Homo sapiens: one gene and its partner. The protein of the gene in region 1 interacts with the protein of each later gene in a pairwise test. Each region holds a gene or a part of one and is shown on either strand. Other genes may lie near its edges.

Evidence for each region.
Region 2: the proteins of CALB1 (region 1) and TRPV5 interact in binary tests that used the Homo sapiens proteins (3 or more experiments, as listed by UniProt).

What each region holds. Positions count from the first base shown.
Region 1 is NC_000008.11:90,067,739-90,083,847, reverse strand, and holds the start of CALB1 (calbindin), read left to right. Parts: upstream 1-968; 5' UTR 969-1,150; coding exon 1,151-1,229; intron 1,230-1,745; coding exon 1,746-1,822; intron 1,823-5,400; coding exon 5,401-5,475; intron 5,476-14,610; coding exon 14,611-14,694; intron 14,695-14,793; coding exon 14,794-14,850; intron 14,851-16,109. UniProt on the Homo sapiens protein: Buffers cytosolic calcium. May stimulate a membrane Ca(2+)-ATPase and a 3',5'-cyclic nucleotide phosphodiesterase.
Region 2 is NC_000007.14:142,926,558-142,943,135, forward strand, and holds the start of TRPV5 (transient receptor potential cation channel subfamily V member 5), read right to left. Parts: upstream 7,190-16,578; 5' UTR 6,903-7,189; coding exon 6,775-6,902; intron 3,890-6,774; coding exon 3,792-3,889; intron 3,624-3,791; coding exon 3,501-3,623; intron 3,009-3,500; coding exon 2,871-3,008; intron 2,564-2,870; coding exon 2,465-2,563; intron 2,310-2,464; coding exon 2,134-2,309; intron 1,678-2,133; coding exon 1,531-1,677; intron 1-1,530. Other genes in the region: sperm-egg fusion protein LLCFC1 precursor, read left to right, coding at 13,065-13,197, 13,795-14,030; KEL (kell blood group glycoprotein), read right to left, coding at 14,695-14,856, 15,877-15,972, 16,318-16,487. UniProt on the Homo sapiens protein: Constitutively active calcium selective cation channel thought to be involved in Ca(2+) reabsorption in kidney and intestine. Required for normal Ca(2+) reabsorption in the kidney distal convoluted tubules.

The DNA of each region.
Region 1 (16,109 bases):
GTATACATACATATATATTACATATATATATATATATATATATATATACATAACATAGCATACATTTAGTTAGATAGCTTTTCCAACTCTGATGGTGACTTCCAATTTCTGAAAAATTCTCCAGTAGGGGTTGCTTGAAACAGAAAGAAGGAGACGTGTGTGTTAAGGCGACTGAATGGGGCTGTGGTGGTAGCACTAACGTACCTACTTATGAACCTGGTCAGATCCTTCCTTTCTCTTTGTTTTAGTTTACTCACTCCTTCTAAACTGAAAGGCAGTAAACTCTAGTATCTGTAAGATGACTTCCTTATCTAAGATTTTAAGGTTTTATAATTTAACTGTATTACTTTCCAATTATAATTCTACTTCATGCTGAAAAGAAATCCATAATCTAGCTTTTTTCGTGTTGGCAAGGTTAGTTCATAGAAACCATCTTAAGAAACATTGACATGATGGCACAAAATAGAGTGATTATTGATAGCAATCAACTCATTGTATACATTAATCAAATTATTCTAATGCGTGCCAAGGTTTCACATGCTTTTTTTTTTTCAAACAAATACTGAAAAGTCTTGGAGAAATCACACAAGAATATAATAATCTTTTATGTGATTTTACCCGTCATCAGCTTTCCCCTTCTATCTGAACATTTAAACCTCTCTAGATAACAAGAGTTTTACTATAATATTCAGGAATAAGATTCTTCCTGGACTAGGAGGATGTAGGGGGAAATGAGCCTCTGTTTTCAGCATCCAATCTCTGAGCAAAGGATCTCCCACCACCTGCTGCTTCCAACAAGCCCAAACTCTCGCTCCAGCTAGCTTTCCTGGGAACAGAGCAGAAAACTGGAAGGGAGGGGAAGAAGGCTGGTGAGAGCAAGAGGCGGGGAGTGAGGAATGGGAGGCTGGAGGAGGCGTGGCCCGGCTTGGGGCCGTCGGGATAAATACTGAGAACTGGGTGCGGGGTGTAGGGAGAGAACTCTGGAGGAACGCTGAGCTGAGCAGCACCGAGGACAGCGCCCGGCAGCGCCCGCGCCCAGGTCTCCCTCCGCAGCCCTGACTCGCGCACACGCTGAGCTTTTGCTCACTCCCCCTCGCGCGGACACAGACACACGCATATTCACACACCCAGACACACACCCCGCTGTACAATGGCAGAATCCCACCTGCAGTCATCCCTCATCACAGCCTCACAGTTTTTCGAGATCTGGCTCCATTTCGACGCTGACGGTGATTATCTTCTCTTTTTAACTGTTTCAAGACCCGTTTCCATGCCCCTTCCCATTCTTTGCCCTTTTCTGAGCCTCCTGATCCCATTATCCCTCCTTTCTATTCTTTACTTCTTCCCCCTTCTGCCTAATCTTATCTTCTTATCTCCCCGACTGGCCGCCAAACTGTCAACCTGAAAGTTTATATTGTTTCCACCGTAATCCCAAAACCTTAAACTTTTGTCTTTCCAGGAACGGTAATGGTAGGAGAGAGAGAGCAGGGATTGGGGAATGCTGCCCCCCCAAAGTTTCTGTGGCTGCGCTTAGCACCCCAACCATCCTCCTTTGTCCTCAGTGGATCTAAAGTTTGATACCCCAGGAGGGGAGCGCTTCACCGTCTGTACACTTTGCTGGTTAATCAACGTCCAGGCAAGAGAGAGCCTCTCGGGTCGCCAGAAAGATAACTGTCTTGGAAAGTGAACGGGAAAGACACTTGGAATGAGATATCTGACACCTGGGTGCCTCTTTGTCTTTGCAGGAAGTGGTTACCTGGAAGGAAAGGAGCTGCAGAACTTGATCCAGGAGCTCCAGCAGGCGCGAAAGAAGGCTGGATTGGTAGGTTCAAGTTTGCGAAAAAGAAAAAAAGACTTTTAACCCCCAAATTAAAACATTCTTGTGTTTTCACAAAAAGCCAGTAGCGTAAAGCGCTTTCTGGGTAATGTAAACGTTTATTGACTGCGAAAGGCAAGAAAAAACACTTTTCCAACTCGAATACAGAGAAATGGGAAAGGGGAAAGAGACTGAGAAAGAGAGAGGGGGAGAGAGAGAGAGAGAGAAGGGAGGGACAGAGAAGGGAGGGAAGAAGGGAGAAAGGGAGACAGACAGAGAGAGACAGATTTTCTAAAGGGAAAAACCTTGCTATCTGAAACTGGAGCTTTAAATATATATATATTCTATACTAGTACTTGCATTAATAGGTCTTAAAAGGGAACTGTGGGTGCATGAGATTCTTTAGCGGATCACCACCTCTACCACTGAGTTTGATTAGGTAATTTTTAAATTCTCTTTTACTGTGTGAGAAATAAGGGGGTGGAAATGCATTTCTGCCCCTTGGTGGTCAAGAAACAGATCTGCAGATTATGGATCTCTTACTCTATCACCAATTATTATTGTTGTGATGTTGATGTAGTTGGGGAGATGAGAAAACATCTTGTCCTCACTAAGGGTAAGTTGCCCAACTTGCAACCTAACAGTGAGAAAGAATTTAGCAAGAAAAGATCTTCATTTCTGTTGAAAGCAAGAAACCCAAAAGGTAGAGAAGTAAAAAGTAAAACAATTTTAAGAATTTCATGTATTGTAAAAAAAGCAAAGTGATACTCTGATGGGCAGCAATTGATGGTGTTTTGAAAATGGCTATGTTCGTTATTTAAGCCATTAGTTAATTAAACAAATAACCATTCTTATTAATTATAAATGACTCCCTTTGGGCATAAATTAACCTGTTAAGAAAATATGTTGTCAGCATAAATATAAAATACAGTCAGCTTTTAAACATAGATGAGATGGTTGTCCAGAGGAAAATGGGTTAAAAATTGTACTACTCTATTGAGGTTTATGTAACACTGCCTTTCAGAAGGCAGTGTTGAATTGGGATGAGTTACACGTTAATGGTCTTTGGCCTTTTTGACTACGTTTAGAAAGAGATTTTACACTACCAATGATGTATATATTATATAGCAGATCACCACCTCTAATATTGAGTGATATATATAAAATTTAATAATAGAACTTTTTGCCCTATCTAAATTGAAAATTGTGTAATATACATTTCTGTACAGCATATTCAAAAGAATCCCAGAGGGCTCTAAATGTATTATAATGCACTATAGAACTATCAGTTACAAAAATCATTGACCAAATTGATTTTAAACCAGATTGTGCTCTAGGGATTGTTTTACCCAGATTTAATATTATATAATCTAAAAGTATAATAGAACGGAATAAAATAGCATAAAAATGTTTTATATACTCTCCACCCTCCCCATGTCTTATATATTGCCATGTAAATAAATTTATGCAATACTGTCATTATAGCTTTATATATCTTTGGCTAATCTAATAAAAGCAATTATCTTCCTCATTTAAAAATACATATTTTAAAATCAGGTTGGAAAAGTCTTACTTTCCATAAAATTTAGAATTAAAACCTTGGAAGATGCTTCCAGCAGGTAATGATTATATTTTATTTTGTGCAGAAGTAATTTTAATATTGAAATCTATTTTCAGCTTAGAAATTTAAATATTCATGAACTTTAAAAAAATATTTTTCTTCCTCTGATTTTAATATTTGTACCTTTTTGTAAGCAATATCTTCATGTTGGAGATTTAGAATTTAATTATTTTTCTCTGTTTTGGAATATTCAAAGCTCCAATTATTAGACTATAATGTAATGATACTAAACAAGCATAGTTATAGGATTATATCAAGTTGCTTAATACCTTGATTCTTGAGCATTTTTCTGGAATGTAAATACAATCTGGATTTTTCTGAATTTAGTATTTTTCTTGATTTGGGTAGTTAAAATCTAAATCAAGATGTGGATTCAGAGTTTCATATAGTAGATACATGTTTCATTATACTACTAACTTCATTGCATTAAACCTACTTGTATATATTTCTTCTCTTTCTTTAGAACATAAAAATTGCCCTTATAAACCAGGCTTTTTGCATTTCTAGCCATAGGATAACAGATTTCATTGCATTAATGGAAACATTGTTTGGCTTTTCGTATTAATAACATGAAATTTCAAAATTTTCACTAGGTGAATATAACATTAATTAAATATAACAATGCAATATATTTTCAGAAACTATCCTTTTACACTAAACATAGTGTTTGGTCTTTGTAGTTGCACTCATTTTTATACATTTTTAATTGGTGGTGATTATATGTTTTGCACTGTTTAAAAAATAGATTTTGACATACTTGTCAGAAACTTCACAAAGTAAATGTCAAGTCTGCTCGTGAAAGTAGTGGTATTACACCATTTTAAAATTTAAGGACAGATGCTTTGGTTTTTGTTTACGTTAAGATGTATGTAAAAATAAAAAAACTGTAGGACCTGATATTCCCACTATTGCCATGGTTGAACACTTTCATTTTCTTACAATTGTTTCTATAACAAAATTAGATAAATACAAATTGTAATTTATCCATAGTAAGTTTTATAAAGACTAAAATATAATTATATTGCTTTGTTATTATTTATTATCTTAGTTCAACTAAAGATGTCTACATTGGTTCCAAACGGCTTTTATAAATACTAGTAATAATGATATTTAGTCTCAATATAGCCCTTTAATTATATTAACCTATCTATCCCCAAAGCAAACTTGTGTGGTAGATAATACCACCATCTTGTTAGCTATGATGAAAACCGAGACCTTAATTTGCTTTCCCAAGGACGTAGAATAGAACATTAGTAAGGGCTGACCTATTTTAAATAGGCTTCAGCTAATGCAACAGGGCTATTTTAAATGGGCTATGTTGGAGACCCAAGGGTAAAAATTAAACCTCCTGAATACCAGTTCTATGTTCAGATCACTAGTTTATAGTTCATAGCTCTCTAATCTATTTAATTTTTAAATTTATTTAATTGATGAATGCCTCTTTTATGCTTAAAACAATCTTTGCTTACAAAGTGAGTTAATCTTTAACATTCACATTTTTTGCTTGTTCAAAATGAAAACATATATTACTCTCCATAGATAAAACATTATGTTAGAATGAGAAAAATGTTGTAAGACAAGATAGTGTAGCAATATAAGGTAATCTTTAATGAAGCAAGCATTGTTTAAAATATATTGATGGTGATGATTATGTTAAAATTCACTAAAAGTTATGAATGGAATGATTCTGACTACACTTTCAAAGGATAGCATAGTCTCAAAATTAATAATAGAAGATAAATCATATTAATTGAGAAATAATCATGATTACAACTCTTTCATTTGGAACTAATAAATACTGTGTATCAGTTATGCCTTTAATTTTTTTGAGAATAGTTAATCATTATGCATATTTCTAAATGGTTCTAATTTTGGTTTTTCTTTGCAGTAAGTTATTAACACCATCACAAGCATAACTGGTATTTTTTTAACAAACCTCCTACCTGCTTTTATATAATTTTAGGAGTTATCACCTGAAATGAAAACTTTTGTGGATCAGTATGGGCAAAGAGATGATGGAAAAATAGGAATTGTAGAGGTAAGGAATTTATGCATTTTTCTGATTTAATTTTAATAAATGAGTTTCAATTTTGAAGTTGTCTTCAAGTCAAGTAAGATATAGCAAGACCCATTCAGTACAGTTTATTTTACCTAAGTAATACATTATCTTCTGTTCAGAAGTATAAAGTTAAAAAATGTTCACAAATGAAAAACATCTAAGAGTATTCCTAACCCAGGGCCTAAATTTCATATATTACAAAATTGAGACCATGGAAAAACAAAATTGTTTGCCTCTGGTCATACAGCTATTTGCTGGCACAGGTGCAGTTAGAGGAACAAGTCCCTGACTTCTACATGAGTATCAATCACATTCCATTACCCAGCCCCACTTCCATACAGTGTCTAAGCACATGGTCCATCAGTATTTCTTATCACTTAACAGTGTAGACTTGACTTTTAAAATATAAAATAAAATGTTTGCAGTCCCTGTGAAATATTTACAGTCCTTATTTTTCATGGCAAAAAGCTGCATCCTGGTTTGACAGTTGGCCTTCGTAAAAACAGAATAATTTAACTAGAGTGAGTGAATATTTTATGATCTGTTATAGGTACAGATTTCATGTGAATCTTTGAAAGTTAAAACTGTGGGTGTCACATCTTATCCTTTCACAGTGACTTTTCCTATTAAGGGCAACTTATTTTTGTCTGTGAATCAAGGAAGCAAAACTGATTATGCATCAATTCTTCTGCATTCTCAGATTTGTGAAAGAGCTGTTGCTTCCCTTATATCTACGTTTCCAGCCTGTGGTGTCTTAGCCTCTTTCTTTATCTCAGCAGCCTATTAGAGAAATTGGGTGGAAGTCTTTGTCCAGAAAAATTAATTAGGTCATAATTTGAAATATGCCAAATCATAACATAATTATGTTATTTATATAGTGTTTCTCAGTGTATTAGATTGTGAAGTATTCTGGATCTCAACAACATTTAGTAATAATTTACCTTTGATTCAGAAAAATAACCTGGTTTTCAAATAATTGATCTTATAGGACACTTGTGATGCCAGTGTGAAATACACTTATTTTTAAACAGCTGATACAAATAGAGTTAAGAGAGGACATACTATTATTATCTTTGTAATTAAAAATTTTCCCTGGAGTACATACATTCCCCTTTACCCGTGTGTAACTCATTACTATATAAATAGATAATAGTAATGGGACTTACAGATAGACATATAGGCCAACTAATCAAGGTATGAAACCATCAAGGATAAGAAAATAACTTTTAAATTAAACATAAATGAGATGAGGTAAATCTAATTATTCAAAACTAGTTTGGAAATATGACATCAGTGAAATTACGGATTGGCTCTTTTAGAGTTTGACATACTTTATAATCCTAGTTAAGGAAAACCTGTCACCTTACATTTAACATACTTCTCCTTGAAGGAGTCCAATGGACTCAGCTATTTATTCAATTTCATTTCTTCAGTGATACTAGATTGTGCAGTAAAAGGCATTGATCTGATTCACATGGATTTTACATTTTTATAAGGATAAAATGGATGAGCATGTTTTGAATCCCGGTTTTACTTTATGTGATACAGTCTAATCATTTATGACTTATTATTTCAGCGCTATTTTGAATGAGAGGTTAGAGGCCATTTAGCAGACGCATTGTCCTGGAGGTTTAATGAAGGAAATTTCCTCAGAAGTTTTAGATAAGGAACTGTTACAGGAAAGAAAAGGCTTTCTGTGGAAGGAAAGATATAGAAATATAGGTAACAGAAGAGGACAGAGAAGGCGATGAAGTCTGAAATAAAGAAGTGAGAAGCTTTTATAGCAACAAAAATAATAAAATAATTCACATTTGTATAAAATAAAATTGACAAAGTGTTTTCAAATATGTTATCTCATTTGATCATCATAACTAGAAAATTAAGTAAATTTAAATATAAAATGAAGATCTATTTTATAGTTATAGCATGTGAAGCTTCAATAGGATTTGCCTAAGGTCACAGAAAAAGTAAGAAATAAATGGTAGAACAGTCAGAACCCAGCCATGTTCCCCCAAACTATTCTGCCTTTTTTAAAATAATAAATAATCTGTACATTTTCTGCATTAAAAGGAAAACTTTTCAAGCTTCAGTTGGTTGATTACTTATGGCAAGTTTCTAAGTTTATCTGGGATGAATAGGGATGCACAAAGTGTTCTGCAGAGAAGTTATTTGGGCAAAGCACTCGAAACATAATTTCAGCAGAACTTTTGATCAGCTGAAGCAGAAATAATTTAAAGGGAGACAAATGAGATACATATAAACTGATTGGAAGGTTTTAGTGTTCCAGGACATGGAACTTTTTGCTAGATGGGACTCTTGGGAAGAACTAGCCAACATTCCTTATTTTAAGGATGAAGAAACTGAAGCCCGAAAAGGTCGAATGATGTATCCAAGGTCCCATTTGCAGGGAGTGACAAATTCTATATACAGACTTAGATCTCATTCCGATTTTAGAACTCTTTTCATTAATCTTAGTTATCAGCCAAGACATAGGAGTAAGGGGTCTGGAAGAGGGCATTAGTTTGAGAGAAGAGAAATGGAGAATAGGAGGAAAAATAGGAGATTGCTTCAATAGTTCATATGCATGTTGGTTCACTGTGTGATGGTTAAGAGTGAAGAAAAGAGAAATTCTGAAAATAATTGGGAAATAGAAATTAAAAGTTACAGATTACATGTAGAAAATGTGGAAAGGGAGAGTAGGAAATGTCTGAACTTATATTTTGCTCTCTACTGTAACCAGAAAGCTGTATTAAATGAAGTTCATCCTTTCTTTTTCCAATTTGACATATATCACTTGCTTAGAAATCCTATAAATAATATAGAACACAAATACACAAATTCTAGCCAGCTATAAAGGAATGCAAAATCCTATGTTTTCTACAATTTATAATAATCTACCTACTGACATCAAGCACACATTAACTTTGGTGTTCAAAGGGAAAGGAAGATGGATTTACTTATATGTTATGCTTACTTAATAGTTATACTCACAAACTCATCAAAATCTAATCAAAGTAAACCAAATGATACTCATGCAGTGGTCTGCGTCCCTGATGGAACAGGCCAAATTGGTTTGTCTCTGAAAGATGTCATTCAAAAAGATTAGAAAATGTAATGGTTAACTTTCAAAGTTCTAACGTGACAAAGTTAGCTGACACTTTCTAACAACATGCATTTGCTACCTAGAAACAAATATGTTTCTTTCTGAACTTTCTAATTTCTTGCCTTTAAATAGATTTAAAAATCCACACAAATACAGTTTAGAAATAACGAGATTGTTAACACAAACTCAAGACAGGAGCATCGAAATTTTGAGATAATTTAACAAATAATGTGATGGTCAAAAAAATGTTCCGAATTTATTCAGACTAATAGCTCTACTGCAAAGAAGGCTGATTAAAATAATTAAAAAGGAAGACTTAATGATTTAGCAGATAATAGAGCTTTCTTCTCTGGTGTTCACATGAAATATAGGTATTTCTCTTAAATGGGTGTCAAATCTGTAAGTTTTTCACCTGATCCTTTTGGCAATGTGTGAGAACCTACCATCCTCTCCATTCTTACTGTTTCTATCTGTCCAGGTCAGTGCATCCATTGAAAAACAGACCTAAAAGCTATTTTAGTCCTAAAACTGTAACAACCCTCCCAGGGAAGCAAGCTCTTCTCCAGCCTTTCCCTCTTTTCATCTGCAGTGGGATTTGAGCCTGTGAGTTTAGCCATAGTGAATATAATTTTTCATGGAAGACTACTTTTCCACCACAGAATTTTGGGAAATGACTGACAATGAAATCTGATTTTAAAATTCCCTCTGCATAGATCTTTCTAAGTGATTTATTAGGGATACTTTTTTGATTGAGGATTTTAATGGAGGGTGATGAAGGTAAGGGACAGAGTCTCTAAGCCAAGAAAGTCAGACTCTGCCTTCAAATCTGGCTCCAACTGCAATCTATGTGAGAGCAGGCCATTTACCCTCTTTGAGCCTCTGTTTCCTTGGTAGTGAACAAGGATGACAATGTATTAACTTCATAAGGTTGTTATGATCATCAGTATCAAATAATACATATTGAACAAGTAGATTGACCCTGGCACACTGTAAAAACTCAACAAATGTATTTGCAGTTATTGTTACATATAAAAATAACTTACTACAAAATCGACCCCATCTTCTGAATGCCAAGCCTTTTCCCCCACTTATTATATAATTTGTCAAATTCAAATTATTAAACTGAAAGAGCTTTACATTTTTGATAAAGTTATTTACCTTTCAAATTTCCTGGACTCACTTCTCACTGGCTAGGGAAAACGTTTTTCTGGTTCTCAAGTGAAAAAAAAAAATGAATGCTTGGCTAATACATGTTCAAGAATGTTAACATACCATGATTGTCTTTAAAAGTTAGGAATTCTGCCTCATGTGCACTGTGATATAATTTGTATCACTAATGAAGTTGCCTTTCATGTATACTCTCCTCACAACTAGTACTTAGCTTTATTGTTGTTTTTATCTCCTGCTTTGAAATTGTCAGGGGAAAAGTTGTTTGAAAGTATCTGCCTCCCTATATGGTTCTCACTAGTGGTGACTGTGGTCACCAGCACAGTGCCTAGTATTTAGTAGCCAAATGAGCCACAGCAAGGGATTTCAACTTACTCCAAAACATCAGGCAAAGTCTCTGTATTACGCTAGAAATAAAAGAGAGATGTAAAGTCCCCTGTTATGGGTAGAGTTCCCTGGGAAGCAGATCTGAGTGGAAGAGTAGCAATGAGCAGGTTTATTAGGAAGTGCTCTTGGGATCAATACCCCGGGACAGAAGTGAAGAGAATAGATCTGGGCAGAGGGAGAAGCTGGGCTGTGTCACAGTCTCAACGGGGACATCAGCTGACCCTACAGTGAGTTCTGAAGCTGGGATGACCCTTCAGGAATGTCTCTAGTTTTGAGTGAGACCGTTGGGCCTTTATATCCCCATGTTGATCAGTCATAGGATGCCACCTCCTTGGGGACACAGCTGTCTTCAGCCCAGGTATTCCTTCAATGGGGCCTCACAGGTGAGGCTGCAGCAACACTCCCAGCACTTGAAGGGAGTTCTGGGTAGCATATCACAATGTCCACCCCAACCCCTATTCACAGCTCAGTAATAAGTTATTGGAATTATCTCCAAAGGAACTTTACCTCCATTTATTTACAGCCTATCCTGATGCTAAACAAATAGTTAATTACCTTTATATATTGCTTCAATAAAATATTTACTAAAATTTGTGCAGTTTCTGGGCCACAAAACAGTAAATAAGACACAGACCCCATCCTCAAGGAGCACGTAGACTAGTAGGGGAGACAAGCAAGTAGGAAGTTGTTGGTTTTTTTTCCTACTCTTGATAACAAGCAATCAGTTCTCAGAAATGAAGCTCTGAGGGATTCTACTTATTTCCTTAGCTACCTGCCTTCCACTCATCCCCTTGATATTCTTCACTCTCTTTTCCAACTCATAAAAAAGTTTTGGGAGTTCATAAAAGAGCAGGCAGGCAGCCCAAAGATTACAGAATCACCAATAATATTGTAATAAGAAGTATTGGATACTTCTATAAACAGCAGTGACTTAGCATATCTGAGAATAAAGCAACTCTACTTAACACCTCCTATATGAAAGACCTTTGGCACATTATAGACATAGTCATAAAGGCTACAGCTGGAGAATTACTGTGCCCAGCTCTGAAACTTGAATATTGATTCATACGCATTGAGAGAAGAACCGAGAGACAACACAGGACCACCACATTGTGAAACATATCTTAAGAAAGATTTCTTTACATTCACTATAGCCACATCCTATATACACATAATAATTTTTATATGCTTAAGACTCCTTTCTAACATTTATAAAATAGGATGGTATCATGTTGAGTGTAACATTAATGGTTCAGTGAAATTAAAACAGATTGAATATGTTGCACATTGATGTAATCTGTATTTTTTAATAATTTAAGTATAAAACCAAAGCAGTATGGGCAAGAAATACACATTTATAGTAGACATGAAGAGCATTTTTACTATCTCTGTATCTGACATTCAGGAGACCTCTCAACTTTATGTGAGTTACATGAACTTTTATGTTGAAACAAAGATGGCAATTTCCCTAATTTTACATTTAGTGATTGCTTACTAGTTCATTCATTTGTTTTTTTCTGTTTTTATGTATTCAGTGAATTTGGAGATGTAAAATATTTAAAGAAAAATTATTCTTTTTTGTTCAAAGCAACACACACTAATTATAAAAATCCAAACAAAATAGAGAATTATGATGAAGATAAGCAAAAAATAACTCAATTCTTTTAAGTAGATGTTTTTAATAAAGTAAAATTACCAACCAATCCGCAAGCATTTATTTCAGGCATATAACATGCTAGATACCATGCTGGGCATTCAGGGGATGCAGAAAAGTATTATTCCCTGCCCTCTTGAAATTAATGGTCTAGAGGAAGGTCACGCAAAAATTGTAAGAAGTATCTAACAAGTTGCATACTAATAAATAAAGGACGAGTTGGGGTTAGCTATTTCCTGTTTCCTAAATGAACACTTATATTCATGAAAAAAACATAATAAAATGTGGCTAGACCTTCTATATCATGCAGAACCCTCCAAAATGTATACATAACATCCATTTCCATTGTTCAATCTTTCCCTCAAAATGTCTGCCTCTGATATATTTTCTTCTCTTTGATGTGTTTTATTGTCTTCCATCTTTGTTCCCTCTTCTTTCTTGTGTTACTTTTTCTTCTCTTCCCATCTTCTTTAAAATCCTCAAGGAGATATTCTTCAGAATCCCTCCAGGAAAGTATTATTATAGAAGAGGCCAGGCTCAACAAGACTGGAGGGGTGTGGCTCTCCGTCCTCCAGAGCCCCTCTCCATGCCGAGCCCACCCACTGCCATTCTCCCTCCCTTCTCCTCTTCCCCCTTAGCTCTGGGGGGAGACCTACATTCTAGGCCTAACTTACCAGATATCTGGATACTTTATAATGAAAATCATTTATAGCTACTTTCCACTAGGAGCCCACTTACAGATGAGGAAAAAAAAGGGATTTTTATAAGGAAAATGGTGTTCTAGATTTCAATGAGTAGAAACAGCTTATCATATTTAAACTATCTCATTGTCACGTGTAAAAATCACCAACAAATTCATTATTTGCAGTCCAAGAGCAAAGAAGCAACCAAACCACTCTATTACTGTCTTCAACAAGCATGTTGTTGACTTAATCTACTAATAATCACCAAATTAAAGTGATTTTCAGTCTGCCAATCATCAGGTCATCATTCAACCTCTTTGGGCCTTAGCATCCTCAATTGAAAAATTTGGTCTTGAATTAAATTAAATTATGTTATTTCTGAGGTATAGAATTTTATGATTCAAGTATTCAAAGGAATTGAAAGAATGCAAAGGTCACAGAAGTATGTCCTGAGTTTAATAAGGGACCTGGATAACACACACACACACACACACACACACACACACACACACACACACACTGCAATGATGCAAATGTGTTTATGTACCAAAAGCTAATTACATTTTTTTAAAAGCACTGGCACATTATAAACCCCCATTTTTACTTTTTAGATATATTATCATCTACCCACACTAGTGACCTTTCTTTAAAAATAAATAAGAAAATGTTTTATAACTAGGTCATATTAAACATGTTGACATAAGGTTTGGCCCTTTCCCTTAGTCTCACCCACATGTGTGGTGCGTATAAATCGAGTGGTTTTAATTTGAAATATTATTTCAAAAATCTAAACATAAGATAAGCTAAAGGGCATACACAGGCATAAGAAAAATTAGATTCCTTGCATATAAAGTAGAATAGTGCATTTTATATTAAATATTAAATTTTTAAATGAACCTAAAAGGATGAATTTTTTAAAAAAAGTTATGATAGTATTTTCTATAACTTGGTAGAACTTTTAGAACTGACTCTGACTTTAAGGCTGATCTAGACTACAGGCTGTTGGCCTAAAATCCACGGATGAGGGTCCGTCCATGCCCGTGATCTAGGGAATTCATCAAATCCTGGAAATTAGATGAAATATAGTGTGTGTAGATTCATTATTTAATGGTGAAAATGCAGTGCTTCCAACAGAAGGCGTTTTGAACCCAATATATTCAAGAAACACTGGCTTCTATTTCAAGTCCTTGTTTTAGTGATGAGGGTACTGAAGTCCAGAAATGGCTCGGGGTTGCTGGGGACCACAGCTAATTAGCTACTGTGCCAGAAATAGATCTCACATCTGTAGTGGAGCCATCAATCCAGCTCCTTCCTTCTCTGTACGCAATAGATTAGTCATAAAATGGGATATGGAATCCTTTTTTCTTCCAAAAAAAAAAAAAAGAGAGGAGGATTGAAGTTTTGAAATGAGATCTAAGGGAAAATGTCATAGAGGCATGCCGTGGAGATCAGAAAATAAACCCCAGCCCTGGATTCAAGCAGTGGATGTCCTTTCAGCAGAAAGCAACAATTTGAGAACTGGCTTTTCCTATTCCTGTTTAACGCCCCACCATTCATGGTGAATTTCTTTTCCATTGCCTTACGATTGTCTTTGGTTTATCTTCTCTTGTATCTCATGGTAGGCTTTCTCCTCGGGCTTGGGAATACATTTTCCCCCTTCACTCCCCTCCCCAACATTTATGTTCCTCATGGTTTCTTTCACTTCACATGAAATTTATGGCCCCCACATGTGCCTTTCTGTGACCCTGTGAGGAGAGAGGAGAGAGGCATAGAACACTAATCTGTGGCATAGAACACTTGAAGGGTTCAAGCCACGAGGATGAATCTGCCTGAATGTCCAGCAGACAAGAAGTGGCCACGCTAGTTCTACCTGAGCACAGGTCTGCTGCGGCCACCTCACTGGCCAAAGAACCAAGCACACAAGGGCACACGAGCGTTGGAGAATCGACAGCGCTCCATAGGAAAGTACCAGAAAGGGAAAGCCGACTCTAATGTTTTTCCTCTCCTACTTTTCTAGCCTGTGAGGGAACACGTTGAAGAAAAACTAAGCAGCAGGTAATGGCAGAGACTTGTTTTTGAGCAACTTACAACACGTTTCTCTCTTCTTAAATCTTTTCCAGTTGGCTCACGTATTACCCACAGAAGAGAATTTCCTGCTGCTCTTCCGATGCCAGCAGCTGAAGTCCTGTGAGGAATTCATGAAGGTATAAGAAAGCTGCCCCTTTAAGAAAGCTGCTTAAAGTAGGAAAATTGTTCCTTTTATTAAAAATGTGTTTGTTTTCCTTATCCAAAATTACTTACAGACATGGAGAAAATATGATACTGACCACAGTGGCTTCATAGAAACTGAGGAGCTTAAGGTAAGCAAATAAAAACTTGTACTAAGTTTTTCCTTTCAGATGCAATTATGAACTAAGAGTTTCCTAGCTTTTTAAAAAACCTCCCACAAAAGAAACTAATGTTGAACAGTGTCACATTTTCACCTACTCTTCGACATTGTTAATGAAGTACCAGATCAAAAAAGCATCTTCAATTGCTTCTGGAAATTCTGTACAGTAATGCAAAAAATTAACATTTTTTGTGGTGTACACAAATATAAGACAGACAGACAGATAGAATTATAGATAAGCCGAATAAGCCATTCTTTTATTGAAATTTGTAGTTTTAGTTCTCAAAATAAACACATATATATATAAATTTTCTTACAAAAGAAAGAAGAAAAAGTTACTGAATAGCTACTGTATGCCAACTACTTTACACATAATGCCTTATTTAATCTTTGCGTAAGTTGTATGACATTGTATTACCCCATTGAGGAAGAGTTGAGAGAAGTTAAATGATATACTGAAGGCCACACAGAAATCGGACAGAGCCTTGATGTGCAAATCCAGGCTTGTCTGCCTCCAAGGCCTGTAGACATTCTACACAACCTACTGACTCTCAGCAATGATGATAAAAAATAAAAAATCTTCTAAAATTAAACTTTTGAAAAACTGCAACTTAGAGAATGAATTTATCACTTCGGATATCACAGAGGAGGATATAAAGGAAAAGGCAGAGATCTGAAATCAAGTCTTAACTCATTAATTACTATATCTTTCCAATTTTCTTTAATCTTTAAAATGAGTGTAATAAATCCTTCCTCTCAGGCTTATTGTGAAGCTCCAGTAAGATTCTGCACATGAAAGCTTTTGTGACATGCAACATAAAATAAATTATATTATTCATGAACTCAATTTACTAGCCTTTCAGGAATATGGAAGTATTCTTCTCATTTCCTCAAGCCGACCCCAAAACATCGCCATCTGAAAGACCCTACTTTTTCTATTTTTAGAACATAGAGTGACTAAAATATAAGTGAGTTAATATTTACTGACTATCTGTCAGGCAGAGTACAAGGTGCTTGAAGTGTATTTTAAAATTTAATCCTCACAGAAAATATGCAAGGCAGGTATTATCACTCCTAATATAAAAACAGTGAGATTGGAATGCAGAGAGATTTGATGATTTTTCAAGATTACACAGCTGCCTAGGAAGAGAACCTGGATTTGTACCTAGAATATCTGATAATGCTAAGAATGATTCCCCACCCCACCCCCACAGCACTACATGCTTTCAG
Region 2 (16,578 bases), on another chromosome or scaffold:
GGATCCCCAGCCAGAAAGCCTCTATTTTTGTCCTAAATCAGGAGTCTAGGTCTTCTGAACTGCAGCTGAAGGTAGTGAAGGATGTGAAAGGGGGCTAGAAAGGAAGATTTATGGAGGAAAAAAGCAACTGACCCAAGACACTTATGAAACCTGCTGGAGAATATTGAGAATAGCTTAAATCAAAGACCAAGGATATGTGGTGGCGAAATCCACACAGTGGGATTGTGCTTTTAATACCTAAGAAATCCTGCTCAAAGTGTATCTGTTTCCAGGGATATTCTCTGAGGAAGATCTCACAAACTAGCCACTCAACTTTTCTTCTATTCGTTAGTATTAATAATCATTCATGTTTTCTGGATCTATAAGGATTCCTGGGAAATTGTCACTGTGGCAGATACAAAACAGAAACTACATCTTGGCACTCTCATGGAACGTTCTGAAACCTGGAAGTCTTTTCTCCTCTCTACTGCAGTCTTCAACAAATTTTCGTTTCCCTCACATCACTCAACCCAGCATTGTTGAATGGTCTATACGTTGCTCCCTCTCTAAAAAGCTCTTTTTTTTCTCTCATCTTCCTGTGACTCCCAATTCTTCCTTGAAGATCCAGCCCCAGCATTTCCTCTGTGACATCTTCTCTGGTCTATCCAAGCCAAGTTAACTCTACCTCAATGTGGCTGTCTGCATGCATGGTACACACAACTATTACGGCATATGTCATGCTCTGTTGCAATTATTCAGGACAGGGACTGAGAATTGAGGAAGTTGATGAACAGGAACTGTGTTGTATTTATTTCTGTACTGTTTGTTTCTTGTGCAGTGCCTGACATACAGCGGGTGTTCAATATGCTTGTATTAGTCCATTCTCATATTACTATAAAGAACTACCTGGCACAGGGTAATTTATAAATAAAAAGGTTTAATTGGCTCATGGTTCTGCAGGCTGTACAGGTTCTGGAGAGGCCTGAGGAAACGTACAATCATGGCAAAAGGCCAAGAAGAAAGCAGGCACATCCTACATGGCCGGAGCAGGAGGAAGAGAGAGCAGGAGGAAGAGAGAGCAGGGGGAGGTGCCACACACTTTTAAACAACCGGATCTTGTGAAAACTCACTATCACGAGAACATCAAGAGGGAAGTCTGTCCCCATGATCCAATCACCTCCCACCAGGCCCCTTCTCCAACACTGTGGATTACAATTTGACATGAAATTTTTGCATTTGGACACAAATGCAAACCATATCAATGCTGAACCAATGAATGAATATGAGGAAACAGCTCTTATTTGGAGTTTCTCATCTGAAATGATAGAAGGCGAAAGGTAGGCAGAAGGGACTGGAGCTAAGCAGAGAGACAGGGGATTCAGGAGAGGAGTGTGCATTGGACTTTCCCCCATGTCCCAGGAGACTATTCTCATCTCCACCTATTATAAGGCTGGGAAGTGTCTCAGGCCCAGGATCTTAGTAAGTGGACAGACTCTGCACAAACACTAAATTCCCTCACATGACAGGCCTGATCCTCCTTGGCATCCATACCTCTCGTTTATCAGAGGAGACCACAAGCTCCAGGAAGGACAGCTCCTCTCCCCAGGAGTCGATCTCCGTGAGGTCGTAGAGAATGGAGGTCAGGGGTCCATACGTCCACTGGATGTGCCTCCGCTTCTGCATCAGGTGCTGGAACATCTGAGAGACCACCAGGATGAGTCAGGGGGCCAACGTGTGAGAAGGTGGTCGAGGAGAACAACTCCATTGGATGGAGCCAGTTGCCCACCCCTTGAGACAGACAGACAGTGGGAACCAGCAAACCTCTGCATCTACAAGCTTTCCCTTTTTTGTCATCTTTCCTGCTCCAAAACCCCAGAAAGTGCAGAAAGAAGAAAATAGGCAAAGGAAGCTAGAGCTTTGGGTTATCACAGCACATGCATTAAGGTAAGGTTCTCAAATCCTCTTGAGTCAAGGACCATGAAGCTGAAGATTTCAGTGATGGAATAGGAAGCAAGGGACCACCATCCCTTTGGGGAGTTTGGGGAAAAGGGATTTTAGAGAAAGGTGGGCCCTTCACCTCTATTTCTCCCAGGGCCAGCAGGATAGGTTGAGGGTCATTAGAAAGACACCTCAGGGATGGGGAGCGTCTCTTACCACAGTGTTACCCTCCACTCCAGCCAGCTTGAAGGGGGTGAGACCCTGGTGATTGGGCACAAGGTCCAGGGGCTGCAGGTGGTCCCCATGTCCATCATAGGACAGCAGCAGGTTGTACATCTGGCAGGCAAAGGTTTTGTTGGGCTGGAGGATGAGGATGTGTAATACTGTGTTTCCTGGGGAGGACGCAGGGTATCATGTGGCCACTGGCCTAAAGTCCCTGATGTCCCCATCCCCACTCTGGGGTCTTCCTAAAGGTCCCAGCTCCACTCCTTACCCTGTCCCTCGCTCCCCACAGCATCCCAGCTCCCCTCCCCATCCCAGCTCTTACCCAGGGAGTCCTGGGCCCTGATGTCAGCTCCATGCTCAATGAGCAGCCGCACGATCTCCTCGCTGTTCACACAGGCAGCAAAGGACAAAGGGTGCTCCCCTGTGGACACAGAGAGATCCATGGCAGGAGAACGCAGGATGGCAGGATGGGGTGGGCAGTCTCCCCCAAATAAGGGCCTCCTCCTCATCCCCCATATCTCAGTTCTAGGCTGAGGGACACTCGTCCAGCAGAACCAGAGGAAGGAACCATCAGGGGAATGGGCCTCTGGCTTAATTAAGCCCTAGAAGGGCTGCCCCTCTCAACTGCCCAACAGATGGAGCTGAAGGCAGGACCCTCATGCCCTGGCCTCCCTCTGCCTTGCCCGCCTCTCCAGCCAACCATCCTTCAAGCCCAACCCTGCTCTCACCAAAGTAGATGAGGTTGCGGGGACTATGGCGGAAGGCAGTGCCTGTGGCTCTGGCAGAGACACTGGCCCTGCGGGTGAGCAGGGCACGCACCAGGTTCACATTCTGGTTCACAACAGCGATGTGCAGTGCAGTCTGACCTGGCCCAGAGACAGCCATCATCAGGGTCTCCCTCTGTCCCCAGTTCTCTCAGGGACACAGCATCCCCCACCATCCCTCTCAGGAGGTTCCTGATAGATCTTTGCTAGACTTCTGCCCTGGGCTTGGCAGGGTGGCCTGGGACTAAGAGCAATTCATCCCTCAGGCTGCCCTGCTCATTGACCTACCCTTCAGTTATTGGGAGCCAGCAGGGGATTGCTATGAATATAATCATTCTCATGTTGCTATGAGAGAAAGAAATTGAGATAGGTCCTACAGGGACTATGGGAGGTTTGAAAGGAAATGCTGAAGGAAGCCACAGATTGGTAAAAGCCAAGACCAGGACCTTTGCATTTCTCCCAACTCAACGGAGCCCATCCTCCTGACCCTCCATCACCCCACCCCAACCCATCCTTCAGAGGCCAATTTTAAGAGACAACAGCACACCCTCCATCTCAAAGTTTCCACCTTGAATTACCATGTAGGCTCCTTACCTGCAAAAGCCTCACATGTGGTGGGCTCAAAGACCAGCTCTGGGGCAGCCTCCATCAGCACCAAGGCCGCCTCCAAGTTGTCATAGAGGGCTGCTATGTGCAGCGCCGTCTCCCCCAGGGCTCCTGGATTGGAGTAAGACAGAGATGTTAGACACTTTTCAGATTCCCTTGAGGAAGGGGCCTCAGGCTCCAGAGACACCCTCCAAGGCCCTATTTCACAAACTCGAAGTCTTGGGGAGGAGGAGTAGGTTCTTCTGCCCCCACCTCCATCCCATTAAATCCAGATCCCACCTCTTTGTCGAACGTCACAGGTGCAGTCCAGTAGAAGTTGCCTAAGAACAGACAGGTCATTTTCCTTGGATGCTCGAAGCAGTGGAGACTCTAGAATCCTGGGGAAAGGTGAACGTGAGTTTGGAAGAGACAGTCATAGCAGAATGAGGCCAAGAGCAAAGGGGATCTAAGACATTCTTTAAGACCAACGTGACTCACACAGCGTGCAGTGACAAATTGGAAAGAAGTGCCTACTGGACTCGAATGACCGAGGGTGGACTTGGGCAAGGGTCAGCCCCAGGGCCTTCCTTGCAATTCACATCATGGTGATTCTCCTGTGAGGATGGCCCTTGAAGCTCTGCTGGAGGGGAAGAGTTAATAGGAAGAGAACCTGTAGTCTGGAAAGAGTGGTCTGAGAGTCTCTAAGAAGAGGACCCTAGGCTTGGCTGAATTCATCTAACCTGAGTAACTGTCTCAGATCCTGGATAGTTGGAGAGCGGGACAGAGGGCACTTCCATCTGCGGTCCCCCTGCTCCTGGGCCTGCTGAATCTACTGTCTTTAACCAAGGGGAGTTTGGGAGACCAAAACACAGAGGGAGGAGGAATGGATCGACTGCTAGATCTTTCCTAGGCATTTTGAAATTTGTGAAATTTGTGAGGCACTAAAGTTCTGACTACTCCCTCAGGCTATTTTTTTTTTTTTTTTTTTTTTTGAGACAGAGTCTTGCTCTGTTGCCTAGGCTGGAGTGCAGTGGTACAATCTCAGCTTACCGCAGCCTCTGCCTCCCAGGTTCAAGCAATTCTTGTGCCTCAGTCTCCCGAGTAGCTGGGATTACAGGCACGCACCACCACGCCCAGCTAATTTTTTGTATTTTTAGTAGAGATGGGGTTTTGCCATGTTGGCCAGGCTGATCTCGAACTCCTGAGCTCAGGCAATCCGCCTGCCTTGGCCTCCCAAAGTGCTGGGATTACATTGCGCCCAGCATCCTCAGGTTATTTAGATACAGGTCCCTGCAGGGGGTGGAGAGTTGTGGGGTGAGTTACAGGGTGCCTCTTTCTTCTGCATTATACCCTTAGATGCAAAGGTCTAAACAGCTTGTTTATGTGGGTGTCTCAAGGCAAAACAGGTTGAGATACTCATTCTACAGGACCTCTGTTAATCTTTGCTTCTACCATACCCAGATTTGAACCCAGAAAGAGATAAAGCTGGAGCCTCTCCAACTAGACATATGTGTATTGGCCCCAAAGGCAAGCACATGGTGTAGGGGGAAGAACAGAAAGGACAGGCCGATGAGTGGCTCCTCTGAGGTCCCCACCTCCAAATCCCTCTCTTCCAATAGCCCCAGGAGCCAGGGCGAAAAAGTGTTTTTATTTTATTTATTTATTTTTTTTGAGACGAAGTCTCACTCTATTGCCCAGACTGGAGTGCAGTGGTGCGATCTCGGCTCACTGCAACTTCCGCCTCCTGGGTTCAAGTGATTCTCCTGCCTCAGCCTCCCGAGTAGCTGGGACTACAGGTGCCCACCACCATGCCTGACTAGTTTTTTTATTTTTGGTAGAGACGGGGTTTCAGCATGTTGGCCAGGCTGCTCTCGAACTCCTGACCTCAGGTGATCCACCCATCTCGGCCTCCCAAAGTGCTGGGATTACAGGTGTGAGCCACCACGCCCAGCCAAAGTGTTTTCATTTAAAGAAGAAGCTTTTAATCTAAAGGTGGGGCCTGGTTTTACCTGTTAAGGCAGTGCTCCTAGGAGGGGCCTTTGTGAGGAGTCAGTTCCCTGCCCCGTCTCACCCAGGGAATCAGTCCCAGGGAGCCTGGTGTCCCTGACCAGCCTAGAGTGGTCAGGGCTGAGATTGCAAATTCACCCCCATCCTGAGGCCACTGCACAAACAAAGTCCTTGCCTCCCTGGCCCTCTATCCCCACTGCCCCTCTGCAGAGGGTCCAAGTTGGGGCTGGAAGCTCACTTTCTCAGAGACCCAGGGGTCCCACTCTAAAGCAGGAAGGTGAGATTCCACTGGAGGTATTGGGTGGGGAGATGAGGAAGCAGAGGGCTTGACAGTATGAGGGCTCAGAGGTACTTGGGACCAGGCCCAGTGTAAACTGCAAATGCAGGACCCCTTGTTCAAAATTATTAAGAACTTGAAGATGAGGACAGCAGGGCATTGAACAAAGCACAGGAATCTTCTGGAGTACAGGGGAGCCCTTTGTGACTGCTAATGTCTGCTCAACAACCTCACCCCTCAGGCAGCTGTTGGGTGGGAGGCAAGCCCCAAAACACTTGGAGGAAGAAGCAGCCCACAGGATTCGTCCCTGCCCCAGCTGCTCTTCCTGGGACTGGACCTCAGGGCTAAGCCATGAAATGATTTACCTGCAGGTGTGCTAGCCCTGCCCGAACTAAGAGCTCTCCAGGAGCAGGCACAAGTCTCATTCAATCTTTATGTCATTGGGATCTAACACCCCTCTGCACACAGTAGACTCAATAAAAGGCAGATGGACTGAACTCAGAGCCCTCCAGTGTCACCTGAGCTGCCCTCCTCCACTGGTCAGCACCCAGTGTTACACCAAACAAAGCGCTCCTCCCCTTTCCCACACAGTCCACTTTCATTCAAATGAATGGCGTTTCCTTATCGTGCTTCCACCACCCACAGGAGTGCATCCCTTCTTCAGCAGCCTGCTTCTGCCTTCCCTCCCCATCCCACACAACCTGGCTTCTTCCCTCTGGTCCTTTTTGGTCCTTTCACTCCCCCTTGGCTGTCATTCTGCCTCTGTCCTTAGGTCTACCCTCAAGATTTTCCTGTGTGGCCCAAAGCCACATCCTCCACCGCCACTAAAAGGGGCCAGCTGGGATTCTGTAATTAGGTGGGCTGGAAGGAAAGGGTATGTCTGAGTGACTGGCACTGACAATACACTTCTAGGGTGCTGTATTCGGAAAGCAGGCCCAGGTGGGTCAGAGGGTCTGAGGATCACGGCGGTAGGGCCACGGATCGTTCTAGGAAGCCTACCTCTTCTGCTGCAGCATATGAAGCTTGTCCAGGTGCTGGTCCCAGTCTTGTTCTCTGACCAGAAAGGAGGGCAGAAGTTTCTGGAGTTGGCTCCCGGGCCCTTCTGCCTTAGGTAGAAAACCCCCCATGTCTTCTCCTTGCAGACACTGGCAGATTATAGAAATGTGGCGAAAGAAACAGGTCTAGGATGACAGCAACTGAGCAAGAGATGGGGTCTATTTGGGGCTGGGACTCTGAGTTTATCTCCTGTATGACTTGTGTATGCAGCATGCAGCTTGTAGGTGTGTGTGTGTGCATGCAGTATGTGGGTTGTGGGGTGTGCGTGTATGCACAGTGTGTGGCTGTGGTGTATGTGTGTGCATGCAGTGTGTGGTTGTGAGGTGGTGTGTGTGCATGCAGGTGCGCTGAGGGGACTGACCGCCCTGCCTGGGGAGAAGTGCTTTTCCTGGAGGGGGAGGAGCTCTTTGCAGAGCTGAGCCCCACAGCCACAGAACCACCCTGGGGAAGAAAAGGAGGAGGGGAAGGAAGGTTCCTAACTGTGGGCTGGGATGGCTGAGACCCGAGAAGCTAAGAGGTGGGGCAGAGGAATTTGGAAAAAGAAAAGGGATGGAAGGTGGGTCCACAAACAAGGTGCACAGTTAGTTGCATGAGGGAGAGGAGGAAATAAAGACTTCCAGCTCAAGAGTCAGGCAGAGCCTGGTTCAAATCCTGACTCTTATCCCTTACAGTTAGGTGAGCTTTCTGAGCCTCAGTTCCTAACCTGTGAAATTGGGGTAACGGCTATGCCGTCTCACGGGAGCATCTGTAAAGCATGTGTCACAAGTACTCAATCACTGCCGATCCTCCTTCCACAAGAGGGCTCAAGAGACCCCCGGGCTGCTTCTCAGAGCTTCCCATTTATGTGTCTTGTGGTCATCTCTGTCCTCAACCCTGTACCTCAAAGGAGGGTTTCTGACCCCCACTTCCCAGGCCAATCCCTCTCTGTGAGAAGTCCTCATGACCGTGACCGGCCAGCTTCCTGGAGCGTCGCCGAGCAGGCTCTGGTACCTGGGGACGCAGGTCAGAGGAGCCCCCAGGGGCCTCGAGTTATTATGGAGGTTGAACAGCAGAAACTGAGCAAAGGTAGACGACAAATAAATCGTGATTCCATGTTTGGGACTCTTTCCAGGAATGAAACACCAGGAGGAATAAGTAATGTTGCACTATTTTATATATTTTATATTATATTTTATATATTAAGTAGTTTCCCTTATCCACAGTTTCACTCTCTGATGGTTCAGTTACCTAAGGTCAGCCACAGTTGGAAAATAGGTGAGTACAGTACTATAACATATTTTGAGAGACAGAGAGAAAGAGAACATTCACATAACTTTATATTATTATAATTTTCATTTTATTGTTGTTAAACTCTTTTTTTTTTTTTTTTGAGACAGAGTTTCACTTTCGTTGCCCAGGCTGGAGAGCAATGGTGTGATCTTGGCTCACTGCAACATCCACCTTCCAGGTTCAAGTTATTCTCCTGCCGCAGCCTCCCTAGTAGCTGGGATTACAGGTGCCCACCACCACGCCTGGCTAATTTTTGTATTTTTAGTAGAGACAGGGTTTTACCATGTTGGCCAGGCTAGTCTCGAACTCCTGACCTCAGGTGATCTGCTTGCCTCGGCCTCCTGAAGTGCTGGGATTACAGGCGTGAGTCACTATGCCCGGCCTAAACTCTTCACTGTGCCTAATGTATAAATTAAACTTCATCATATGTATGTATGTATGTATGTATGTATGTATGTATGTATGTATGTATGTACGTGTAGGAAAAAAGATAGTATATACAGGGTTTGGTGCTATCTAAGGTTCCTGGCATCCACTGGGGCGTCTTGGAATGTATCCCCTGAGGATAAAAGGTGACTACTGTATATGATAGCTTGTATTTATGTTCTCATTTTTTTTATTATTATACTTTAAGTTCTAGGGTACATGTGCACAATATGCAGGTTTGTTACATATGTATACATGTGCCATGTTGGTGTGCTGCACCCATTAACTGTCATTTACATTAGGTATATCTCCTAATGTATCCCTCCCCCCTCCCCCAACCCCACGACAGGTCCTGGTGTGTGATGTTCCCCTTCCTGTGTCCAAGTGTTCTCATTGTTCAATTCTGTTCTCATTGTTTTCAAAGAGGTACATCAATATTATTGAATTGCATTCACTCAATAGACCTATCAGGTAAATGAGAACAAGGAAGAATTCCGTCTGTGAGAATTCTTGGGTGTGCTGGCCCCAAGTCCCATGGCTAGTGGCGAGACTGTAACTGGCCATGAACTTGGGATCTCAGCTCCAAACCACTCTCCAGACCTTGTTGCTTCTTGGGAATCTTTTGGCTGTAAAGGTGTGAGAGACCAGCGTGAGGATACGCTGGGACTCTCCCTCTGGGGGTCTTGAGGAGTGGGGACTGCCCCCTTCTTTTGTTGTAAGAAAGAGAGATCTGCTCCCAAGATTGAGGGATGGACAAAATAACCTTTAGAGAAGGACAAGAATTGAAAGGAAAATAAATAAGGAAACTAAGAGGAGCTAGTGTTCATTGATGTTTCAAAAGGGGGAAAATTTGGATCTTTTTCTTATTAAAAGCCAAAAGGAAAAGTTAAGTAAAAAAAAAAAAAGATACAGTGGAATTATGTTCTCACTGGGAGTGGGGAGGGCTCAACTTGTGGGACATTTTTCTGCCTCGCTGGGGGTGACGCCCTTGTGGAGTGACTTCCAGTCTAAGGAGATGGAGGGAGCGATAAGGGTGAGGTGGGGGTTGTAGATGCCTTGATAAGCGAGGCAGGTCAGGAAAGGAGCACCTGCCAAGGAAACTACAACCCATAAAGCTGGTCCTGGGGCGGGGGGGTTGGGACATGGGGGGCCGGCAGGGGAGGAGGCTGGCCCAGTCTGAGCTGCACAGAGCAGGTGTGCAGGGACTTGCCGCCAAGGGCATGTCCAGGGGTCTGGGGAAGAGAAAGGGGAGGCCCAATGCTCAGGCCCCCCCACCCGCCATCCCTGGGCCTTCGCCCTCTCACTTGCCCTTCTCTGCCTACCTCGTCCTCTCCAGTGGGAAGGGCATGGACAAGTAACCTGGGTGAGGACCATGGTGTCCCCCGGCAGTCCCAGCTGGTAGACCAGAGATTTGGAGTCTCTCCTGTTCTCTCCTTGCCTTCTCTCCAGACTGTTTCTTCCTCTTGTGATATTCGACATCACCATTCTATTTTTCCTTTTCTCTCCTTTCTTTTCATGCCTCTCTCAGCTTTCTGCAAGTGAGGACATCTGCAAACTCTCGCCTTCAGAGAGCAGCTTCCCTGCCACTGATGAATGGTCAGTAATGCCTCCAGGCACTCGGGAGAACTGGGCTGGGGGCACCAAACTACACCGTCAAGTCCCAGAACCCTTCACGCCAAAGCAGCCTGACCTCTTATTCTAACATAATAAAGAGGAGGAGGAACCATAATACCTAGATTTCCATTTTTAAAAATTACACTCCCACCCTACGTGGCCACAGCCATCTACGAAAAGGATTCAGGGCCGGATGCGGTGGCTCATGCCTGTAATCCCAGCACTTTGGGAGGCCGAGGCGGGCGCCTCACGAGGTCAGGAGTTCGAGACCAGCCTGGCCAACATAGTGAAACTCCGTCTCTACAAAAAAAAATTAGCTGGGCCTGGTGGCAGGCACATGCAATCCCAGCTACTCAGAAGGCTGAGGCAGGAGAATCACTTGAACCCGGGAGGTGGAGGTTGCAGTGAGCTGAAATTGCGCCTTTGCACTCCAGCCCAGGCAACAGTATGAGAGACTCCATCTCAAAAAAAAAAAAATAGAAAGAAAGAAAAGGATTCAAATACCATACCTTAAAACTAACTGTGGCCAGGCGCAGTGGCTCACACCGGTAATCCCAGCACTTTGGGAGGCCGAGGCGGGCAGATCACCTGAGGTAGGGAGTTCGAGACCTTCCTGACCAACAGAAAGAAACCCTTTCTCTATTAAAAATACAAAATTAGCTGGGTGTGGTGGCACATGCCTGTAATTCCAGCTACTCGGGAGGCTGAGACAGGAGAATCACTTGAACCCAGGAGGTGGAGGTTGTAGGTGAGCTGAGATCGTGCCATTGCCCTCCCGTCTGGGCAACAAGAGTGAGACTCCATCTCAAAAAAAAAAAAGTGATTATCACTGGATGGTGGAATTATTAGCCTTTTTGGGGTTTTGTATTTTTCTATATTTTCTACTTTGTAATAAGAAAAAATATTTAAGGGATTCCCTGTTTTCTGCAAGAATTTATCTCTTTTAACACTGCGGAGGTCAGGCGGGTGGTGGTGGCAAGGAAATGGAAGTAATGGAAACAACTCAGTTATTTCCACTCAAGCCTGCCCGGGAGGCAATTCTCACCCCAGCCGCCCTCCCCATTCATTCCCACAGAGCTGGAGATGGCTTCTCTTTTTGCCAGGAAACCAAGAGGCTGCTCCCCCAAAATAGCCAGGAGGGAGGAGATTAGTGATGGTTTTTTCCATTCAAGCATCATTCTTTGGATCTCACGTCAATGGGTTCAAGGTGGGGTGAGCAGGGTCACCTGCCTACTTGAATCTTTCCTTACTCACCTTCAAGCGACCTCCGTACCACTCCCTAGTCCCTTGTCATCTGGCTTGGACCATCAGGAAGTGTGTAAGAGATGGTGTCTGCTGTATGTGAGACAGCATCCATGTGGGCATGTCTGCTAACACGAGTAAACTCTGTGGGAAAGCATCTCTTTGTGTGTTTCTGTCTGCAGTTCCCTCTTGCAGAAAGGGTGCCTGTCTCCGCAGTGTCCTTGGACCTGCATGTGGTATTTCATTCAGGTCTGGTATGCATGGATGAGCAGGAGCAGTGTGAACTGGTTATGAGAGTTCAGGAGTGACTAAAGTCTTCTCTTACCTGTCTTAGCAGCCATCCTGCATCTAATGGCCTATGTCTCTGTTGCTGGTTTTCGAAAAAAGGCCTTCATTCTGTCTCCCTAACTCACAACCCTCCAACCATCTCTGCCCAAGAAGCAGTTGGGGGTGATTACCCACAGCCGGTTACTGCCAACAGATCTGTGCTCACCAGGCTCATGGGCAGGAGGCGCATCCAAGTACTGAGGCAGGATTCTCCCAGATCTGTTATTTGGGATCCTAGACTCCCTGCCGCACTGCGGCTTCTCTGCAGACTCTAACTCCTTTTGCCAAGCAATGAGGTTGGAGATGAGCCTCTAACAACCTTTTCTTTCGTCTAAGAGTACAGAAAGGTGTAAAATGAAAGAAGAGGGTGTTTCAACCTGGTGGTACAAGAGGACAAAGGCTAGAAAAGTGGGAAAACCAGGGGAGGGTGAAGAGAGGGTGTGAATGGGCTCTACCAGCTGCAAGGCACCCTGCTCTTTGTCTCTCGCTCTCTCTCCGTTCACTCTCTCTTCATCTGTCTCTCTGTCTCTGCGTCTCTATCTCTCTGTCTCTACCCCTCAGTTTCTGCCTGTCTCGGTCTCTTTCTTTCTCTCTTTTTCTATGTCTCTGTCTGTCTCTGCCTGTCTATGCCTGTCTCTGTCTCTGTGTCTTTTATACACACACACAGCATGTGCTTTTACCCATCCTTACCCTATGCTCCTCCCCATCTTTATTTTCTGGCAGACCCATGCTTCATGTAGAGCAGCATGTTCATACCCACGACTTGAGAATCCTGTCCGGCTCATCTGTTCTGGGCCTCATCCTATGCAAACCACTCTTGTTACAGAAAGGCCACATAGAATAGTGGGAAGATATCATATTTAAAAGTAAAAGTTAATCAAGAGTCCTTTTCTGCCCCTTAGTATTTGGGCGATTTTGAGTGAGAGAGTCATTTTTTCTGTGAGCCTCAGTTTCCTCATGAATGTAATAGATATGAGAACACTATGATTTTGCAGTCCTGGTTTCTACGTGGATCTAATGGTGTAATGGATATGAATGTACATTGCAAGCTGTTAAGTCATTTCTGCTAAATACAGAATGACCCACTGTGGTCATCTTGGAAGCCTCGGCCATCCCTGCTGGCTGTGCTCCATTCTTGTGCCTCGCCATTGGAACGCTCTAGTGAGCCGGAATGAAGTTCAGGCCCATGGCTGTGATGTCACAGAACATGTGAAGTCAGAGGTCCTATGGAAGGTGAGGGGAGAAAATGCCCCTGGAAAGGGTTAAGGGCCAGGACAGGAATGGGGCAGGAGGTGCACGGATCCTGCTGGGCACTGGGAGCAGGGGGCGGCCAAAGGCAGTGGGTGGGCAGGTCCATGCCTCCCCTGGCCCCCCAGCTCTGCAGGGCAGTGTTCCTGGTTCCTATCTTGCTGCTGCTGCAGGTGAAGCCTCTGAACGGGAGCCCAGGCCCCAAAGATGGGAGCCAGACAGAGAAAACGCCCTCTGCAGGTAGGTGGAAAAAAAGACAGGAGCCATACAGAGAAAACACCCTCTTCAGGTAGGTAGAAAAAAAGACGGGAGAGTCTGGAGGCTCAGGGTGAGGTCTGTGTGAGGCCAGGCCCCAGGTCACTGATGAGGCTAGGGTGAGACCTGACATAGGTCTGGTTTATGGGGGGTAACTCCAGCCACTGATGGTTATCATGTGAAATAATAGTGTCGGCTCACCATGGGCCAGCTGAGCTTGCATGCAACTTCTGTGTGTGTAAGCATGGTGCATTTGGCTGGCTTTTGTCATGCTTCAAGGTGGCCCCTGACTCCCCCAGTGTTGAAACCCTAGAGGAGGCAGCTAACCTTAGGAATGGTGTGTGTGTGTGTGTGTGTGTGTGTGTGTGTGTGTGTGTGTGTGTGTGTGTTTGAGTTGGGGCTGTGATTGAACACAGACCAGAAAAAACCTCTAGAAAGAGCATCCCCTCTCTGGTGAAGGCTAAGGATATGGGCAATTGGGACTGCAGCCCTAGGCTTCAACGTGTTTTTCCTATTCTAACTTCTCCTTTCTGGTTCAGGCCAGGGTCAGGGCTCAGTCCTTGTCCTTTTCCCCTGTTCCAGACCAGAATCAAGAACAGTTCGAAGAGCACTTTGTGGCCTCCTCAGTGGGTGAGATGTGGCAGGTGGTGGACATGGCCCAGCAGGAAGAAGACCAGTCGTCCAAGACGGCAGCTGTTCACAAGCACTCTTTCCACCTCAGCTTCTGCTTTAGTCTGGCCAGTGTCATGGTTTTCTCAGGAGGGCCATTGAGGCGGACATTCCCAAATATCCAACTCTGCTTCATGCTCACTCACTGACCCTCCCTCCCTCCTGGGCTCCAGGTCACAACTCCCAAAGGAGATGCAGGCATGGCTCTCTGCCTCTGATCACCATCACTGTATCTCAAGGTTCAGCAGCAGAGATACCAGTTGCCATCAGTGCTAACTGACTGCCTCTCCAGGTTCGGAGTTTCATCTCCCAGGGCCAGAGACAGCAGACCCACATCCTTCTCTCCCACACCTCTCCTGGTTTTGTTCAGGACAGCAGATTAGAGGCAGGAGGCAATGACAATAAAATAACGATAAAATCCTGAGAACAATTGGGAGCAGCTTTCCGATACTTAATCCAAGCCCTTCTCGTCTCCAACTAGACTGCTTTATTGTCCAATCTTTGGTCCACTGGGTGGCCTTCAAACCCACCAGGTCACCAATTGTTGATTCTTTCCTTTTCTTGTGTCCATGAAACATTTTTGGCATTTCTCCCTCTTATCTTTTCTAACTTCAGGGTATTTTTCTCCCGTACAGTTAATGACTTCCAGGCATAGAACATAGCAGGAACAAGTCATTAAGAGACAAGCGGAAGCCAAGTGCCAGCTTTTATTTTTGGAACAGAAGCAGAAAGGAAATCTTGCTCTGATTCCATGGATGTGACCAGGGAGGTGTTGGTCGATATTTCTGTGCTGTGGCATCTTTGGTAACCAAGTTACCAGAGCTGGCAGCGGCTGGAGGGGTTCAAGAGAGCACCACGTGCACAGCGGAAATACCTGGCAAAGGCTGGGGTGCTGCTGAGGGGCCCGTGGACTCGGAGGTGTGGAGGGCTGTGAGTGTCGTGAGAGTCCTGGGGGCTGGGCTTCCTACACATCACCTGAGCAGGAAGAGAGGTCATTGAAGGGGGAGGGTCCACAGGACAAAGCTGACCCGGTGACAAGGGGTGATCAGGGACAGCAGACAAAGAGGGGAACCAGGGGATCAAGTGCCCCAAGGGCCACATGGAGCATTTGAAATGTATAGTTCATTTAATCTGGCAATAGGAGTCCAGGAGGAGGGCCTGGGCTGTGTAATGATACCATTTATCAATGACAGAGAGGCAGGGTCTAGCGCAGGAGCTCTGGGGTGAAGTCTAATCTAAGCGTGTTGAAGACCTGGCACCTGAGTCTGTTGAGGGAGTACAGGGTGCTTAAGGAGGTGATGTCAAGTGGGCGCCACACCTAAGGTCAGGTGTCTGAAGAGGAATGTGGCACACAGTCAGCCTGTCGCAGGCTTTTTTTTTTTTTTTGTGAGACTGAGTCTTGCTCTACCACCCAGCCTGGAGTGCAGTGGCATGATCTTGGCTCACTGCAACCTCCGCCTCCCAGGTTCAAGCGATTCTCGTGCCTCAGCCTCTCAAGTAGCTGGGATTACAGGCGCCCGCCACCAAGCCCAGCTAAGTTTTGTATTTTTAGTAGAGACGGGGTTTCACCATATTGGCCAGGCTGGTCTTAAACTCCTGATCTCAAGTGATCCGCCCACCTCGGCCTCCTAGAGTGCCAGGATTACAGGTGTGAGCCACTGTGCCCAACCACAGGCTCATTTTTAAGGCATCTGTATTTTGGGGGTATGAGAGGAAAAAAAAGTTGGTCTCCTCCTCTCCTGGAGGAACTTGGGAATAGAGTTTTTTCTACCTTTTGAGTTGTGGGGGTGCTGAACTAGGTAGAAGAACCTGTAGTCATCTGAGGGGTGATTCCAAGGGGTAGGGAGGGAAGAGAAAAGATAACAGTGAGGACATCTGCAGAAGAGGGTTTGGGGTATTTGACGGAGTGTCTGAAGAGGGGACTTCCATGAGCTTCAGTAATAAGGCGTTCAACTGACATAAAGCAAGCTGTGGCGGGAGGTGGCCGCTGCCTACCTGGGCATAGCTTCGAAAGAAGATCTGCTGGGGGCTGAGGTCCAGGCTGGGCAGGACAGTCTCCCCATGGTGCCGTAACAGCCTCTTGCTGTATGCCTGGGTAGGGGTGGGTAGAGAAGGGCCATCAGGCTCTAGACCTGTGGCCATTTGAAAGTCCCTCCACACAGTACCCAAAACCCATGGCCCTTGCTCACTGGTTCTGCACTGACTAGTTGATCTGAGCCAGAAGAAAGAGTACTTCCCAGAAGACCTATAGATGTCCTAAAATGGAGGATCTCTGGGGTAGGAGGGGGATCCCCAAGTTGCCGTCTATTCAGTGGGGATGCGAAGGGCAGAAAGCCATGCAACTGTACTTGTGTCAGGAATGGTGGAAGGAAAACTTGAGGACATGTTTTCTAGTCTGCCAGTACACATAAACTGTGGCCCTTGACACTTGCATACCTGCAGCGCGATGGCTAGCCCCCCAACGTCTGCAGCATTCTCTAAGAATGTGAGGGAGTCATTGAAGGAGGTTCTGCTAGGTAATGGAAAGGCAGCATAATGGCGCTTCAGGCACAGGTGAGCTTCCTGGAGGGCATGGTTGTCACAGGCGAGGCAGCCCCCAGGCAGTACTGTTGAAAATGGGACAAGAGAACATACAGCAAGAGAACATAGGGTTGGTGCTGCCTAGGTGAGGATGTGGGTGGTACCACAGACTGAATC